Regions from separate parts of the Homo sapiens genome. Here all the other regions are reported to be linked to region 3. Evidence: microRNA targets listed by miRTarBase, many of them from high-throughput screens and not tested one by one. Region 3 holds a microRNA gene; each other region holds the end of a gene's coding sequence. Distances are between the middles of the regions.

Region 1 (4,000 bases), not on the chromosome of region 3:
GTGGCAAGGGCTTCACCAGACAATCCAAGCTCACGGAGCACTTGCGCGTGCACAGCGGGGAGAGACCCTTCCAGTGCCCAGAGTGCAACAGGAGCTTCCGCCTGAAGGGGCAGCTGCTCAGCCATCAGCGCCTGCACACGGGAGAGAGGCCCTTCCAGTGTCCGGAGTGCGACAAGCGCTATCGCGTGAAGGCCGACATGAAGGCCCACCAGCTGCTGCACAGCGGGGAGATGCCTTTCTCCTGTGAGTGCGGCAAGGGCTTTGTGAAACACTCAAAGCTCATCGAGCACATCAGAACGCACACGGGAGAGAAGCCTTTTCAGTGTCCCAAGTGTGACAAGAGTTTCCGCCTGAAGGCGCAGCTGCTCAGCCATCAGGGCCTGCACACAGGGGAGAGGCCTTTTCACTGCCCTGAGTGTGACAAGAACTTCCGGGAAAGGGGACACATGCTGAGGCACCAGCGCATCCACAGGCCCGAGAGGCCCTTTGCCTGTGGCGATTGTGGGAAGGGCTTCATTTACAAGTCTAAGCTTGCGGAGCACATCAGAGTACACACAAAATCCTGTCCTGCTCCAAATGAACTGGACATTAAGAAAAGGCTCAGCCAACTGTTTGCAATGATAGAGGCCGATTGGAGTTGAGGCAGAGTGGGACATCCAAAGCGTTGAGCAGGATTGGTATTGCCCAGGAATCCACAGCAACAGTAGCCAGACCCGCTGGTAGACGGGTTTTAGGAGCAGGTATCCTTCTTTGAGCAAGAGTGTCATGCAAGTTAGGAATATGAAGAACCACAAAGGATTTTCTCTTCAGAAGCATCACCAATTATATTTCTTTCTTTTTTTTTTTTTTTTCCAAGATGGAGTTTTGCTCTGTCACCCAGGCTGGAGTGCAGTGGCGTGATCCCAGCTATATTGGAAAAGACAGCATTATAAAACAAGGACATAATTTTATGAAAAAGGAGGCATCTGCAAACGAAAACAATTTCTACGAGGTTATATGTGATTGTTAACATTTTTAAGAAAAGGTGCACACAGAAATCCAGATAAGATGTGATTACCTTTGTGCATTTGTATAAAAATATATGTGTGTAATTATAAGGAAGTTCTGACATTTTAAAAAGTAATTGTTATAAAAGTAAATTTAGGCCAGGCACAGTGGTTCATGCCTGTAATCCCAGCACTTGGGAGGCCGTGGCAGGAGGATCACGAGCCAAGGAGTTTGAGACCAGCTTGGGCAACATGGCAAAACCCTGTCTCTACTAAAAATACAAAAATTAGCCAGGCATGGTGGTACACACCAGTAGTCCCAGCTACTCCTGAAGCTGAGGTGGGAGGATCGCCTGAGCCCAGGGAGGTCAAGGCTGCAGTGAGCAATGATGGTGCCACTGCACTCCAGTATGGATGACATAGTATGACACTGTCTCAAAAAAAAAAAAAAAAAAATTTGGGCCAGGGGTGGTGGCTCACGCCTGTAATCCCAGCACTTTGGGAGGCTGAGGCGGGTGGATCACAAGGTCAGGAGATCGAGACCATCCTGGCAAACACAGTGAAACCCTGTCTCTACTAAAAATACAAAAAAAAAAAAAAAATTAGCCGGGTGTGGTGGCAGGCACCTGTAGTCCCAGGAGGCTGAGGCAGGAGAATGGTGTGAGCCCAGGAGGCGGAGCTTGCAGTGAGCCAAGATCAAGCCACTGCACTCCAGCCTGGGTGACAGAGCGAGACTCCGTCTCAAAAAAAAAAAAAAAACAAATTTAGTATCTCCCAAAGGAAGCTTGGCAAGTCCTTTTCATTCTCTTTAGAATTTATAGAATATAGCCTGGCGTGGTGGCTCATACCTATAATCCCATTACTTTGGGAGGTCAAGGCAGGAGGATCACTTGAGGTCAGGAGTTCAAGACCAGACTGGCCAACATGGTGAAACACCATCTCTACCAAAAAGTACAAAAATTAGCCGGGCATGGTGGCATGCACCTGTAGTCTTGGCTACGCCGGAGGCTGAGGCAGGAGAATCGCTTGAACCCCAGAGGTGGAGGTTGCATTGAGCTGGGATTGCACCACTGCATTCCAACTTGGGAGACAGAGCAAGACTCCATCTCAAAAAAATTATAGAATATATAATTAATATATAAAGATACAGAATAATATATAATTATAAATTCCTTTTTTTTTTTCTTTGAGATGGAGTCTTGCTCTGTCGCCCAGGCTGGGGTGCAGTGGCATGATCTCGGCTCACCGCAAGCTCCACCTTCCGGGTTCATGCCATTCTCCTGCCTCAGGCTCCCAAGTAGCTGGGACCACAGGCGCCCGCCACCACGCCCAGCTAATTTTTTGTATTTTTAGTAGAGACAGAGTTTCACCGTGTTAGCCAGGATGGTCTCGATCTCTTGACCTCGTGATCCGCCCGCCTCAGCCTCCCAAAGTGCTGGGATTACAGGCATGAGCCACGGTGCCGGCCTTTCTTTTCTTTTTTTTTTTTTTTTTGGAGTCTCTGTCAGCCAGCCTGGAGTACAGTGCCATGATCTTAGCTCGCTGTATCCTCCACCTCCCAAGCTCAAGTGATCCTTCTTTCTCAACCTCCTGAGTAGCTGGGACTAAAGGCGCACGCCATCACGTGCCACCATGCCTATTTTTGTATTTTTAGTAGAGACTAAAAATACAAAAAATATAAAATGTGGGCCAGGCTGGTCTTGAACTCCTGACCTCAGGTGATCTACCCACCTCAGCCTCCCAAAGTGCTGGGATTATAGGTGTGAGCCACCGTGCCCGGCCTATACTTCGCCATTTGTCTCTTAACACGGGTGCCCAAGAAGCTGCTGCTTGGGGGGCTGTATTCAATTAACACTTTTAATGTTAACAGGTGTGGACCATCAAGAGATTGTCTCTCCCTGGCTGCCGAATTCTCATTCTTAGAGAGGCAATTTGTTAATTGCTGAACCATCACCTGACATTTCTAGTGGGTCGGGAGAGAGCCCTCTGCTGCCCTGTTGATGCCTAACTACCTGTAACAATCTGATTATTGTAAGTTTTCCTGTATCCAGTATCACCTCCAATATTTATCAAGGAGTTGTGTGAAATACCACCTCACAACCAGATGAAGAATTTTATCACCACCTCCTCCAATTCCTCATGAGGGAGAAGTAGGAATTGCTCTGAGCCTAAGGTAGAAACCGTTCCTGAAATGTTGAAAACCGTCATTGTGAGTAGGTGAGTGGAGTGGTGGAGTAGTGAATCACCTGTACAATGGCACTGTCAAAAGACAAAATTACAACACATTTAGTTTAAAAATCTTAATTGGCTTATTTGGTATTCTAGAATTGAGCAACACTTCATCCCATGAAACAGAATAAGTGGCCCGGCGTGGTGGCTCACGCCTGTAATCCCAGCACTCTGAGAGGCCGAGGCGGGCAGATCACCTGAGGTCAGAAGTTCAAGACCAGCCTGGCCATGGTGAAACCCTGTCTGTACTAAAAATACAAAAAATTAGGTGGGTGTGGCAATGCGAACCTGTAATTCCAGCTACTCGGGAGGCTGAGGCGGGAGAATCGCTTGAACCCGGGAGGCGGAGGTTGCAGTGAGCCGAGATCGTGCCATTGCACTCCAGCCTGGGCAACGAGCGAAACTCGGTCTCAAAAACAAAAACAGAAAAACAGAATAAGTGTTTGGATGAGCCAGCCAAGGCGGGTTTTTTTTTTTTTTTTTAAGAAGGAGTCTCCCTCTGTCGCCCAGGCTGGAGAGCAGTGGCGCTATCTTGGCTCACTGCAACCTCCACCTCCTGGGTTCAAGCAATTCTGCCTCAGCCTCCCAAGTAGCTGGGATTACAGGTATGCGCCACCATGCCTGGCTAATTTTTTGTATTTTTAGTAGAGACGGGGGTTTCACCAGGATGGCCAGGCTGGTCTCGAACTCCTGATCTCGTGATCTGCCCACCTTGGCCTCCCAAAGTGCTGGGATTATAGGTGTGAGCCACTGCACCCGGCCCGCGGTTGGTTTTATGGACAGAA
Region 2 (4,000 bases), 16 Mb from region 3:
ATTTCATCTTTCCACAGGCTCAAAGTCTAACTCCCCAGGACTATAATCTGAGGTGGTCAGGCCTTTTGGTGACAGTGGGTGAAGTCCTGGAAAAGAGTTTACTGAATGTCAGCCGGACTGATTGGCACATGGCATTTACTGGGATGTCCCGTCGGCAGATGATCTACAGTGCAGCCAGAGCGATAGCGGGCATGTATAAACAGCGCCTGCCACCCAGGACAGTGTGAGAGGAGACCTACCTGGGAGACTGAGACTTTCCCCCACTTTTAGCTTGATGTTAAAGAAGTGGTTGTACCTTCCTAAATCGAATAGTCTAAATGAATCCAGTAGTTTTTATCATTTTCCTGTAGCCTGCAATTTTTCTTTCTCTAGAAAGGCATCATGTCATTCCAGGAGACAAAAAGAAACAAATCCTTTTTATAGTCATACCATTTCACCTATCATAGTACTCAAAAAAGAAAATATACAAATCTATTTACAGCACAATTTAATATACCAGATTTATAAGGTGGAAATTCATGTGCAGAGACATTTAACTTAATGCCATGTACTTGATTATTTTGTTCTTTAAAGAAGACATTATTAAAGAACATGTTGGTTGAATGTTTATAAAAGCATGATTTGCTTTGGCTTCATCTCTTTTCTGTCAGTCTTTGACTACTTTTGTATGTGCACACGATCTCAGGGCTGGTGCTGAGCAGCCTGCTCAACAGTCACTATAAGACACCTACTTGTCGGGAGATGTTCCACATTTCTGTGCATGTTTTCAGTAATATGGGCCAAAATAATGGAATTGATTATTTTCCTTTTTGGCCATCACGTACACATGTAATCTGGAAAATCATACCTTTGTCAATTTTAAACATAACTTTTGGCATTTCCCAGATTTATACTATGAACATTGGGGTAATACATTTTATTTTTTCATTGCTATATGACAGCTAAGGGGCAAATGATTCAAGTATATTTTAAATCAGAAGTATTCAAATTATTTTTGTATAATACTGTTCAGTACTTCCAAGAATAAGCTCTGACAACAGCCATTGTTTCTGCTTCCACTCATATTCTCTACACATTTTAATACAGAAATTTTTGAGAGGGGGTTACTTTATTGCTTGTGGGTTAGTATGTCTCTTACTTCAATTAAGGTTACTTATTTGGTTTGCCTTAAGCATTACTTTTTTAACTTTGTGCCATTTGGTCTTTACTTTTTATGGATGTTTTCAAAGAAACTATTTTATATTCAATCTAGTTTATTTAGTCTACTGTATTTCTATTTCGTGGAAGCCTTTTCCCCTCAAATAATATATTATATCATTTTTGGACTTATATAAATGATAATTAAATAAATTTTTTTCTTAATACTGTTGGACTTTGTATATACAAGTTCAAATAACTTTTTCGAAGATAGTTTCTTATATAAATGTAATTTAATTTTTTTACTCTTCTATACAGTTCTTTAGATGTAAAAGAATTAGCACAATCTCTGGCAGTTTTATAAAAGCTGTTGAAGCTCTTGTCCTGCACTGTCTTTAGGTATCATAGGTATCAGGTTTGCTTTGTGTTAATGCCACTTCAAGTCATTATTTGGTTTCTGCTATTTTTTTACCTGAGGATAAGAAGAATGAATATTAAATTTGAATATTAAATATATGTTACTTTCCAAGCACTGTATAATGACTGTTCAGTGAATATCAGACTTCCGTGTCATTAAAAGTCATGAGAGACAGCACAGAGAGGTTATAGGTTGCCTTGGTGTACTTTTGTCCAGGAGTAACAGGGACAGAATACTTTCTTTCTTTCCTTCAAGTACAAGAAGGCTTTCTCTACCATTTGCGTCTACACTTTATTTTAAAAGCTATCCTTTTCTAGTAGTATTTTATCATGGCAATGGCATGATGACAACAACAGTCTTTCATTACAGACTGAAGGGAAGCATGTCCTTACTTAAAATAGTTCTGCTACTTTCCCTCCTATTATAAGGAAATCTTACAGATTCTAAAAATACCTTAATTTTTCTTTGATTTTTATTTTACCAAGTCACAAATGTCTTTTTGATGTTTTGAGAATTGTTCTCATAGAATCACAAATACTGACATTTCATTAGATGATTATTTTCCTAGAATCCCCAAAGAGCAGTGGCAGTCCATGGCTTGGTTGAAGCTAGAAATTTTCCTGCCCCTGGTGACCTGGTAAGCCTCCTGCTCGGAACCGTGTGAGTGGGTGAGGAAGATGAGAGATGGTCAGATGGAAGAGAGAAATACATGAACTGCTCTGGCCTCTCTGGTTCTGTTCTTGGCCCAGAGTTTTTGAAAAGCAGCGGAGCATGACTGACTTCACATGCTCAGCTTTCTCAGCCTTTTGTTTATTTTGTTGTCCTTAGATTTCCCTGTTGTAAAAGGGGCAAGAAAAGTAACTCATCATCTCTAACACACCATGGCAGCTTAGCCAGGTAGTCTTAGTGGTGGTGTTTAGGCATAAGATATGCTGATCATCAGTCTCAGGCCACAGTTTCCTTCACTAATCGTCCAGCTTGAGTGTTCTGTTCTCTTCCTGCCCATTTCCTTGAACCTCCTGCTCTAGCCTTGGCGGAGGGAGAGTGCTATTTGCTTTTGTTCTCCCTCTGTCTTAGGAAAAGCCATCTTTAATATAGTTCTTCACCACTGTTGGGGTTGTTTTGTGATTTTTTTTTTCTTCCGAAGAACTCCTGGTTGTTATTGGATTTTGTATTTTAATACAAATTATTGAATTTTATAAGCTTGTACACAATATTTAATTAGTGTGAAAGGAAACAAAGAATGCAGGAAAAATAATTTAATATCAACCTCAGTTGACAAGGTGCTCAGATTATTCAATTCGGGATCCTCCTTTTGTTAGGTTTTTGAGACAACCCTAGACCTAAACTGTGTCACAGACTTCTGAATGTTTAGGCAGTGCTAGTAATTTCCTCGTAATGATTCTGTTATTACTTTCCTATTCTTTATTCCTCTTTCTTCTGAAGATTAATGAAGTTGAAAATTGAGGTGGATAAATACAAAAAGGTAGTGTGATAGTATAAGTATCTAAGTGCAGATGAAAGTGTGTTATATACATCCATTCAAAATTATGCAAGTTAGTAATTACTCAGGGTTAACTAAATTACTTTAATATGCTGTTGAATCTACTCTGTTCCTTGGCTAGAAAAAATTATAAACAGGACTTTGTAGTTTGGGAAGCCAAATTGATAATATTCTATGTTCTAAAAGTTGGGCTATACATAAATTATTAAGAAATATGGATTTTTATTCCCAGGATATGGTGTTCATTTTATGATATTACGCAGGATGATGTATTGAGTAAAATCAGTTTTGTAAATATGTAAATATGTCATAAATAAACAATGCTTTGACTTATTTCCAAAGTTGTATAGCGATTTTTTTTTTAAATGCTAGTTTATATTGAAAGGACGCATATTTCTTTTTACCTAAATTTGTTACTGGCTGCCAAGAATTCTTGTACAACAGCAACTTAACCACCATCTTTCTAGTGGAACTGTAACATTCACATATACCAGAGTTGCTAACTTCAGGGTGCAAGAACTCAAAATATTTAGAGGAGAGGATACATTGGAGATAAAGGTAATAGGCAAGAATTTAAGGCCTATGGTCATGAGGACACTTCTTGAGTATTGGGTTTTCGAGTAGTTTTATTTCTTAGTTTCAGTTCACAGCAGAATTAATTAAAAGGAGGGAAAGTACAGAGATTTCCCATATATCGCCTTCCCCTACATATGCATAGCTTCTTCTCTCTTTATCAACACTCCCCACCAGAGTGGTCCATAATCAATGAACAATAAGTGGTCCATAATCAATGAATAATAAACAATCAATGAACCTGCATTGACCTAACATCTCCCATAGCCCATAGTTTACCTTAGTTACTCTTAGGGTTGTACATTCTTATGGGTTTAGGCAAATGTATAATGACATGTATCCATCATTATAATATTGTAGGAGATTTT
Region 3 (4,152 bases):
ATGAACTTGGGGATGGGCGCGGTGGCTCACGCCTTTGGGAAGCTGGGGCAGGTGGATCACGAGGTCAGGAGTTCGAGACCAGCCTGATCAACATGGTGAAAGCCTGTCTCTACTAAAAATACAAAAATTAGCCGGGCATGGTGGCATGCACCTGTAATCCCAGCTACTCAAGAGGCTGAGACAGGAGAATCACTTGAACTCGGGGGGCGGAGGTTCCAGTGAGCTGAGATTGCACCACTGCACTCCAGCCTGGGTAACAGAGCAAAACTTCATCTCAAAAAAAAAGAATATGAACTTGGGAGTCAGGTAAACTTAAATTTAACTTTTATCCTTTGCCACTTGTTAGTTGAATGACCTTAAACAAATTACTTACTAGTCCAAGCTTATTTTCTCATTTAGAAAGTGGGTCTAATAATAGTACCTACCTCATATACTTGTGATAAGGATTAGAGATAATGCCTGAAAGTACTTGGCACGCTACTTCAGACTTTAGTATTCAATAAGTGTTAGCTGCTTTTGTTATCTTTCCATATGCTCATTAATACTATGTGGGAATCAACCCAACTAAGCGACCACAGACAGACCTGCATCCCTCTGAGAAAAACTCCTACCTCATCCATCTCTGAAGCAACTGAAGTCTCTAGAATTATTCTTGGTACAGATTTGACCATTTATTAGCTTGGTTTCCATGGTTACATTAGCCAACCTTTGGGCTTTCGCGTCTTCATTGTAAACAAAGATGGCCACTCTATGTACACACCAAGATAATCACATGTGAAAATGATTGTAAAGAGTCCTAAGAGCAAATATGAGTTTTCAGTTTATGCTCTTGTCTAGAGAGCTAATATTTTAGGATTAGGTTAGGGAGTGGGAAGGAATATAAACATCTGGGAGCACTGTGTAATGTGTATCCAAAGACATTTATCCCAACATCACTGACTCATACACATCAATGAATTGAAGGGTTTGTCATTCATAACAATTATGCCAACCATTCTAGCTGCGTATAATCAGTAAACCTGTTTTCTTTGGAAAGCTGAAGAAGTCACATGGTCTCCATTTTCATTCCAGTGATGTTCCATGGTGGTTTTAAAAATTCAGGGGCTAGGGTTAGATAATTTAAAAAAGGCCCAGCACGGTGGCTTGTGCCTGTAATCCCAGCACCATGGGAGGCCAAGCCAGGTGGATTACCCGAGGTCAGGAGTTCCAGACAAGCCTGGGAAACATGGTAAAACCCTGTCTCTACTGAACATACAAAAAATTAGCCAGGCATGGTGGTACACACATGTAGTATTAGCTACTTGGGAGGCTGAGGTGGGAGGATCACTTGAACCCGGGAGGCAGAGGTTGCAGTGAGCCAAGATTATACCACTGCACTCCAGTGAGACTCTATCTCAAAAAAAAAAAAAAAAAAAAAGAGAGAGAGAGAATTAAAAACAAAAAAAACCTCAGGCTATATTTCTACCAGTGGACAGTCATTTTTCTCATACACAGTAAAGCAGTGTATATATAAAACAAAGTAACATGAATGGAAATGAAATAGCCAAGAAGGGAAAAGGGAATAGTGGATACAATCATCTTCATAGTTCAATTAATATTCTACCATGCCAAGAATTTTGCATATATTATCTCAACTCTTGCCTGTAAGTAGATACCATCATCTCCATGTTACACAGGAAGAAGAAATTAAGGCTTACAGAGGTTAAGTAATTTGGCCAAGGTCACAGACCTGTGAAGTGCAGAACACTGCCCTCTTTTAATGTCTGCTTTTCTTGTTTTGTTTTCTTGGATGGTTGAGTGGAACTGGCCACTCTGAGTTACCCTCTGTGTTGACAGAACATGAGGTGAAGTGACATTTAGAGCATTCGATGACTCAGTCTCTTCTTGAACTGGCAAAAATTCAAGAATGAGTTTGTGCCATTGATACTCATTGTCTGTGGAATCCCATACAGTTCTTCCCTAGCTGTAGATCAGGGTCAATCTGCAGTGACAGAACATTCTACTTCTCTAACATACCATCAGTTTTCTCTTATCACTGTAATGATCTGTTGGGTGACCTTCCATCAATCAGTCTGCTGTTCAGTTTCCTTCATTGTCATTTATGAAGCGTATCCTATAAGTAAAGCCCATTTATACTGGGCACATAGGAGACAGAAAAGTGAAAGAGATTATCCCTGCCTCCCCACGAGAAACTACTCTAGTGGAATTGACATGAATAACTAGGTAGGTAGAGAGAAATAGATGGATGAGGAGACTATGACAAATATGAGAATAAAGGCTAGAATAGTTTGCTATACAAGCAGGAAAGGGAGGGTGCTAGCTTGAAGGTGGGGATCTGAAAAGCCATCTTGAAGAGGCAGAATTTGATCTGGGCTTTGAAAGAAGGATGAGGGGCAAATCTTGGAGAAGGGTCGTGCTACCAAGCAGACAGGACTGTCTTGATTATCCAGCTCATAGATGGCCATCTTGTCCTCTTTTTCACTGGGCTCAGGAATAGTCTGAGCTGCTTTCTCCATACTGCAGCCCAAGGGATCACCACCAATTCTACATAACTGGTTGGTATAAGGAATGAATCCTCTTGACCATCCCTGATTTACCCCTATAGTGGCTCTGCAGGAAGGAATGTTAAGCCAAGTAATCGGGGAATTGTTGTATCCCACAGACCTGAGTAGATGACTATTTGGATTTAGAGAGGGTCTTTCAATAAAAATAAAGTACACAACAAATATAAGTACCTACTTATAGACATGTCCTTGGAACCTCTTACCTCATTCCTTACCTCTCTCTCATCTATGCTTCTCATGGTACTTTATTTAACAGAGACATTTGTTATTCACCTACTTTGTGCAGGGCTCTTTGCTAGGTATCATACAAAGATGTATAAAATATGCCATCTGTTCTCGAGGAACCATCAATTTATGGAAGTATAAGACCTACATTCAGAAAACTATACAAGTCCATATAATCAGAAGGTCATGTGCATTGGCATTTTGAAGTTCTACACTCTCCCATCTCTATAAAGTAACTGGCTTGAAAAAAACAATCTGCCTCCAAAATGTAGGGTATGGTCTCAGGAGAAAGTGACTCACACAAAAAGATGATGACTTTTTGTTCTTCTGCTGTCTCAGAATTTTTCTATCTGTATGATTCCACATTCAAATTCAAGTTTTGAGATGAATACCCAGTTCCCTTTGTATTGGGTGACATTCTATGCTATTAATCTCAATTGATAATTTTATCTGTGTAATGGCTTCTAAGTATGAAAAAAACAAAAAAATTCCTCTCCGATATTAAAGTTGGGAACCAAATAGAATAAATGTTTTACATCTGACCCAAGCATGTAGTGGAAAAATACAGAACCTGTATTTTCAAATCATTTAAATGAAACATGAAATTGAAACAGAAAGTCAATAACCAAATTAATCATCTTATTACAAAGAAAATGTAACCTGCTTCATTACTGTAATGGCAAACATCAATAGAGTAGAAAATTGACCAGTTTTCTTACATTAGAAAAAAATCTGATTCCTGGTTGCCTAGGAAGCTCTACTCATATTAGTCTTTATTGCATCTTCTGTAATGAATTAAAGCCTGTAAGGTCTCATTAGCACATTACTAATGTAAGTTTTAAAAGCCATATTAAATAACATAAAATGTTACAGTATGAATGTTGTGAGGCTGAGTGTTAAGAGAACAAATTTACATTTTACTATTTTGAAAGTGAACCCATTTGGTTTTGAAGATATTCAACAGCACATGTAAAATAACCAAGAACTTTATCCAAATTAAATAGCAAGTTGGAAATAAGGGATGTAAGTCTAAGAGGGAAATGTTCACCTTTTATATCTAAAGCAAGTCTTCCCAGATAAACCACTTGGCTGATCAAATCATGGGTCAAGAAGTTTGATCCTTGCTCCATCAAATTGGATTACAATTAAGGTTCTAATGTGTCAAAAACATATTTTAAAATATATTCCTTTTCATACAATATGTTATCTTCATACTCACTCACAGAATTTTAAGATCTTAAAGTGGCATAAATTAAAAGTAATAACAAAAGCTAAGAAAAAAATAACATGGGAAAAGAAAAGGAGTACTCAACAATAAGAGCAAGCTTGGAGGTGCACAGCACATTCCCTCAGACCCTTTCTA
Region 4 (4,000 bases), not on the chromosome of region 3:
TATGGTTTACTCATCACTGTTAGTAAGGTAACTTAATTGTCATGCTCACGCTAAGGAGTACGACACTAATAATACCACTCCGTATGTCAGCTAATAAGATAACGAAATAACAAACATGTTAAGACTAGCTAACACATGGGAGCAATAGCCAATGTAAATTTGTATAAAGTGAGAAGTATTCAATCTTCTACCTAACAATGAAGCCTAGACCTGCCATCAATATCCCAGCTGGCAGGCTGAGCAGTTTCATCAACATCACCAATGAGTCACCAGAACTGAACAAAGTGACCAACAATGAGGACTGGGAACAAAGCCAATTTGACCTAAAATGAAGTCATCATTTTTGCATAACTCTGCTGGGTTAGACATGTGCGAAGAACAGATGCCAAACTGCCATTATATATTAAGCTTACACAGGAGCAAACAAATGATAAAAGAAAAAAAAAATCCTCAAACAAACAAAAAAACCCAAAAAAACCAAAACAAAATGAAACTAACCCTGCCAGCGTTTCAATAATTCCCTGAGATGGGCTAAAGGAATGTGGGAGGTTGTGACATATATACCAATTACAAATGAGTGGTTCTTTCAGAGACTTGCAAGCTGATGTTAATTTATGACATAGAAACAGCTTGTGGTTTCAAACACACTGCAGTCACTTTTTTCACACGTTTACCTTAAGTGAGCTTTGACCCTATGGAAGAAAGTTGCTTTAGGGCATTACTGGATTTTCATTCATAACTCTATGTACAGATACACATATGAAAGCAGCAGCAAATTTACAGATGAGGAGCAATGATATTCATTATGTTAAAATCATACTTGGCCTCATGTGAAACACTCAATTTACAAGTAACATTTATGAATCCTGCCTTATTTTACTTTTTGTAGGCAAGATAGCTTAAGGTATATAAAAATTAACTCATTTGGCAATTATAACTCCATGAGTTGATGGCAGAATTACTAACAAACCAGTTCCTTTCTAGCAAAGTCTTAAGAAAAACATTCTAACTACTCTGAAATTCAGAAGAAACAGATATTGAGTATTGATATTTAGTTATTGAGTATAACTAAATATCTAAAGTAGTTAGTATCTAAGAATCTAAGAATAGATTCACTTGTAAGTCAGTTCTAACTTTAAAAAAGTATGTTTAAAACATACTTCAGACTGCAATGTAACAGGGATTATTACTAATGCCTATAATACAGCATTCATATTTAGGAGGAATGGGCATCTGTTATGCATGAGCAAGACTGGGAATAGGAGAAGACAAGATTCCTTCCCTCAAAAGAGCTTACTGGGTACAGACATAAACAACTGTAGAATGTGATAGCACCATCATGAAGACTGAAATAAATAATCACAAAAGTTCATACTCATAGCAGTAAAGCCCCAAAGGACTGAGAAGATGATTCAAGTATAGAAAGAACTTCCTGGATGTTCTCAGAAGCAGTGACCACATAAGACAAGAGGGAGCAGTTGAACTTTGCCCTGAACTTCCTGGCATGTTTGACTAGGAAAAAAGGCTGCACCATTAACCTAAATTGTTCCAGGAGGAAAAGGTGATAAATATTGTCAATCTTTAATCAAGGTTGAAATGTCAACTAGGCAATTAAAAAGAAGTACAAGTCTAGATTTCTGGACCAGGTATGTAATCCAGAACATTGGTATAAAATAAAAACTCTAAGGATGAGATACCGAGAAAAGAGCCAAAAGCATTCTGAGGACAGGATCTGAGAGAGCACATGTTCAGCAGGCACATCTTAAATTAGGGTTATGCGACTGTACTCACAGTTATTTCAGAGGATAGCATCTTCAAGGAAGGAGACACTGTCTAGGAAAGGTTGCTCAATGGTGTAAATGTTGCAGAGAAAAGGGTAAGGGATTCAGACGGAGAAAAAAACCATTCAGTTTGGTAACTGGGAGGCCATTGCTGACTTTCAAAAGAACAGTTTCAGTAGAGTGCTGTGTAAAACCAGACTGCAAGGTGCTGAGTAGTGAGTGATGAGGATGTAGGGGCACTGGATGTGGATTTCTCCAAGAAGTCTGTCAGTCAGTGAAGAAGGCTGGAAAAACTAGCAGGTTAAAAGGGAGGGGTTTTTTTTTTGCATTGGAAGATACACGAGCATGTTTGTAGACCTCAAAAAGGAACCAGTATACAACTCGTTTATAATTTTGTAATGACTACAAGACTAAAAAATAATTTTTAATATTTTAAAAAATGTTCTGAAATAAAAATACATAAAATTTAAATTATATGCATTTTACCATTTAAACTTAATACAAACTTAAAAGAACTAGCATTTCATGATAAATTTTATTTCTAAAGGGGTCATACAGTTCTGTTATTGGACTACTTCAGAATTTATTTTGCTTTTAGACTATAATGAGAAACTAAATTTTATTAACAATTGCTATTTTAGTTCCTGAAAGATTACTCTGATATAAAGGATTACACTGAAGTAATTATGTATGCCTTCTTCCTCAGCCCTCCTCCCCTAAAGACAAAGTATCTTCAGGGTAGTTAATAATTTTGAGAATATTTTTCAAGTTGAAAAAGAGAAAAATTAGAAATAGTATTCCATTATTAATAAGTTCTTAAAGATCTAAATTGTTCACAATAATTTTTCATGATAAAACATGCTTATTTATTATATACACATGCTTACATATGTATTTCCTGTCTAAAATACATGCAACCACCATGAAAAAACAAATATTAAACCATCCTCACAGTCCTAAGAATGCCCTTTTAAATAAGGCACTCATGTTTGGAAATAGGATGTAACTACTAAATTAAATAAGATGTTTAAAGAAGTCTTTTATTAAGCACAAACAACTTTTAATACATTATCAATACAAATAGGAAAAGGTCTTTTAATGACTATGATATATCAAAGATCTGAAAGGCTTTCTCTGTATTGACACAATAAAAATAATCAATTCTGAAGAATTACAAAGTAAAATTTTGAGGACACCACTGTCTACTAACAAGAGTTTAACTACTGTCTAAATTTACTAAATCACCTGTGGAGGAAGGGCAACTTTTTTTTTTCTTTTTAATAGAGAGAATTCCTACTCTTATTAGCACCATTCAAAGCTTATTATCAGTTGTTTGTCTACAAACTGACAGGTCAGGTAAAGCTTTAAAGCAAGTTTTCAGTGCAATGTTTATAGTTCCTTCTTTTAAGATACTTGGAATCTACAGCCTCGAAGCATGTTAAGTAATTATGCCTTGGTAGTAGCAAGGTGTTAACATGTAAAGAGAAATGTGTCATGAAAAGAAATGAGACTTATTTTGGCTGTGAAATGCATCTTAAGGTGTGGTGGCTAATGCTGTAGTATGTTGACAACATGCGGGATTATGAACTGCAAATCTGTAGGTAGCTGGTAGCTATTAGCTCTCTGTGGTCACCATTTCAGGATGTCTCAGCTGCTGCCTTTTGAGATTAACTAGTTTCATCCTGTCTCTGATGTTTTCTGCAGTAGAAGCCATGTCACTTGGACTCCCAAAATATTGTTCGGTTCTAAAAATCAAAACACACAGAAAAACCTCAGATTAATACAAATCTATTAACTGCAGTGAATACAAATAGAAGCAAAAATTTACCATAAAAAATCTACATGAGATAGCCTATGTGTAAATATCAGTTCATCGGTGATCATACTGTTTGAGCAGGAAATTCAGCAGGAAAAACATTTTTTAAAATGGCATAAAATACATTAAGACATGATGAGAAAAATATATTGATGGTATAAAGGTTATATCATGTGTAGTTATGATAATAGCAACAAATTGAACAATGAAACACTGGAAATATGTGGGTCCAGAAGGATGCACAAACATAAAATTTATACAGGTACTTGAGTGCTACCGGCTGGGGACACCACTTGTCTATAGAGCTGGCAAGCAAAATAAATATTCTTTTTAATGTTATGACATTTTTTGGTACATTAACAGATAAAATTATTAATTTTATTCTACTCTCAAAGATACTGTA

What was found. The annotated mature microRNA hsa-miR-5197-5p reads CAAUGGCACAAACUCAUUCUUGA and lies in region 3 at 1,901-1,923, opposite strand. An mRNA with a match to its seed (bases 2 to 7 or 8) in the 3' UTR can be bound and repressed. Matches are read on the target gene's strand: a 7mer-m8 pairs with bases 2 to 8, a 7mer-A1 pairs with bases 2 to 7 and ends in A, and an 8mer does both.
Region 1: the mRNA of ZNF786 is a reported target of hsa-miR-5197-5p. The part of its 3' UTR that is shown has no 7-base or 8-base seed match.
Region 2: miRTarBase lists PRRC1 as a target of hsa-miR-5197-5p. Seed matches in the 3' UTR shown: 7mer-m8 at 1,192-1,198.
Region 4: the mRNA of SESTD1 is a reported target of hsa-miR-5197-5p. The part of its 3' UTR that is shown has no 7-base or 8-base seed match.

What each region holds. Positions count from the first base shown.
Region 1 is chr7:149,067,064-149,071,063 of GRCh38, reverse strand. ZNF786 (zinc finger protein 786) reads left to right here. Exons shown (of 4, transcript NM_152411.4): 4 at 1-1,423. The coding sequence ends at 641. Among named protein-coding and RNA genes, the nearest start is that of ZNF786, 22 kb to the left of the region's middle.
Region 2 is chr5:127,551,690-127,555,689 of GRCh38, forward strand. PRRC1 (proline rich coiled-coil 1) reads left to right here. Exons shown (of 9, transcript NM_130809.5): 9 at 18-3,396. The coding sequence ends at 227. LOC124901058 (a long non-coding RNA gene) reads right to left here. Exons shown (of 2, transcript XR_007058924.1): 2 at 3,668-4,000. Among named protein-coding and RNA genes, the nearest start is that of PRRC1, 36 kb to the left of the region's middle.
Region 3 is chr5:143,677,657-143,681,808 of GRCh38, reverse strand. MIR5197 (microRNA 5197) reads right to left here and starts at 1,949; the gene lies at 1,838-1,949.
Region 4 is chr2:179,106,503-179,110,502 of GRCh38, forward strand. It overlaps SESTD1 (SEC14 and spectrin domain containing 1), which reads right to left. Exons shown (of 18, transcript NM_178123.5): 18 at 1-3,526. The coding sequence ends at 3,397. Among named protein-coding and RNA genes, the nearest start is that of CCDC141, 58 kb to the left of the region's middle. RefSeq lists silencers at 26-226, 1,306-1,506.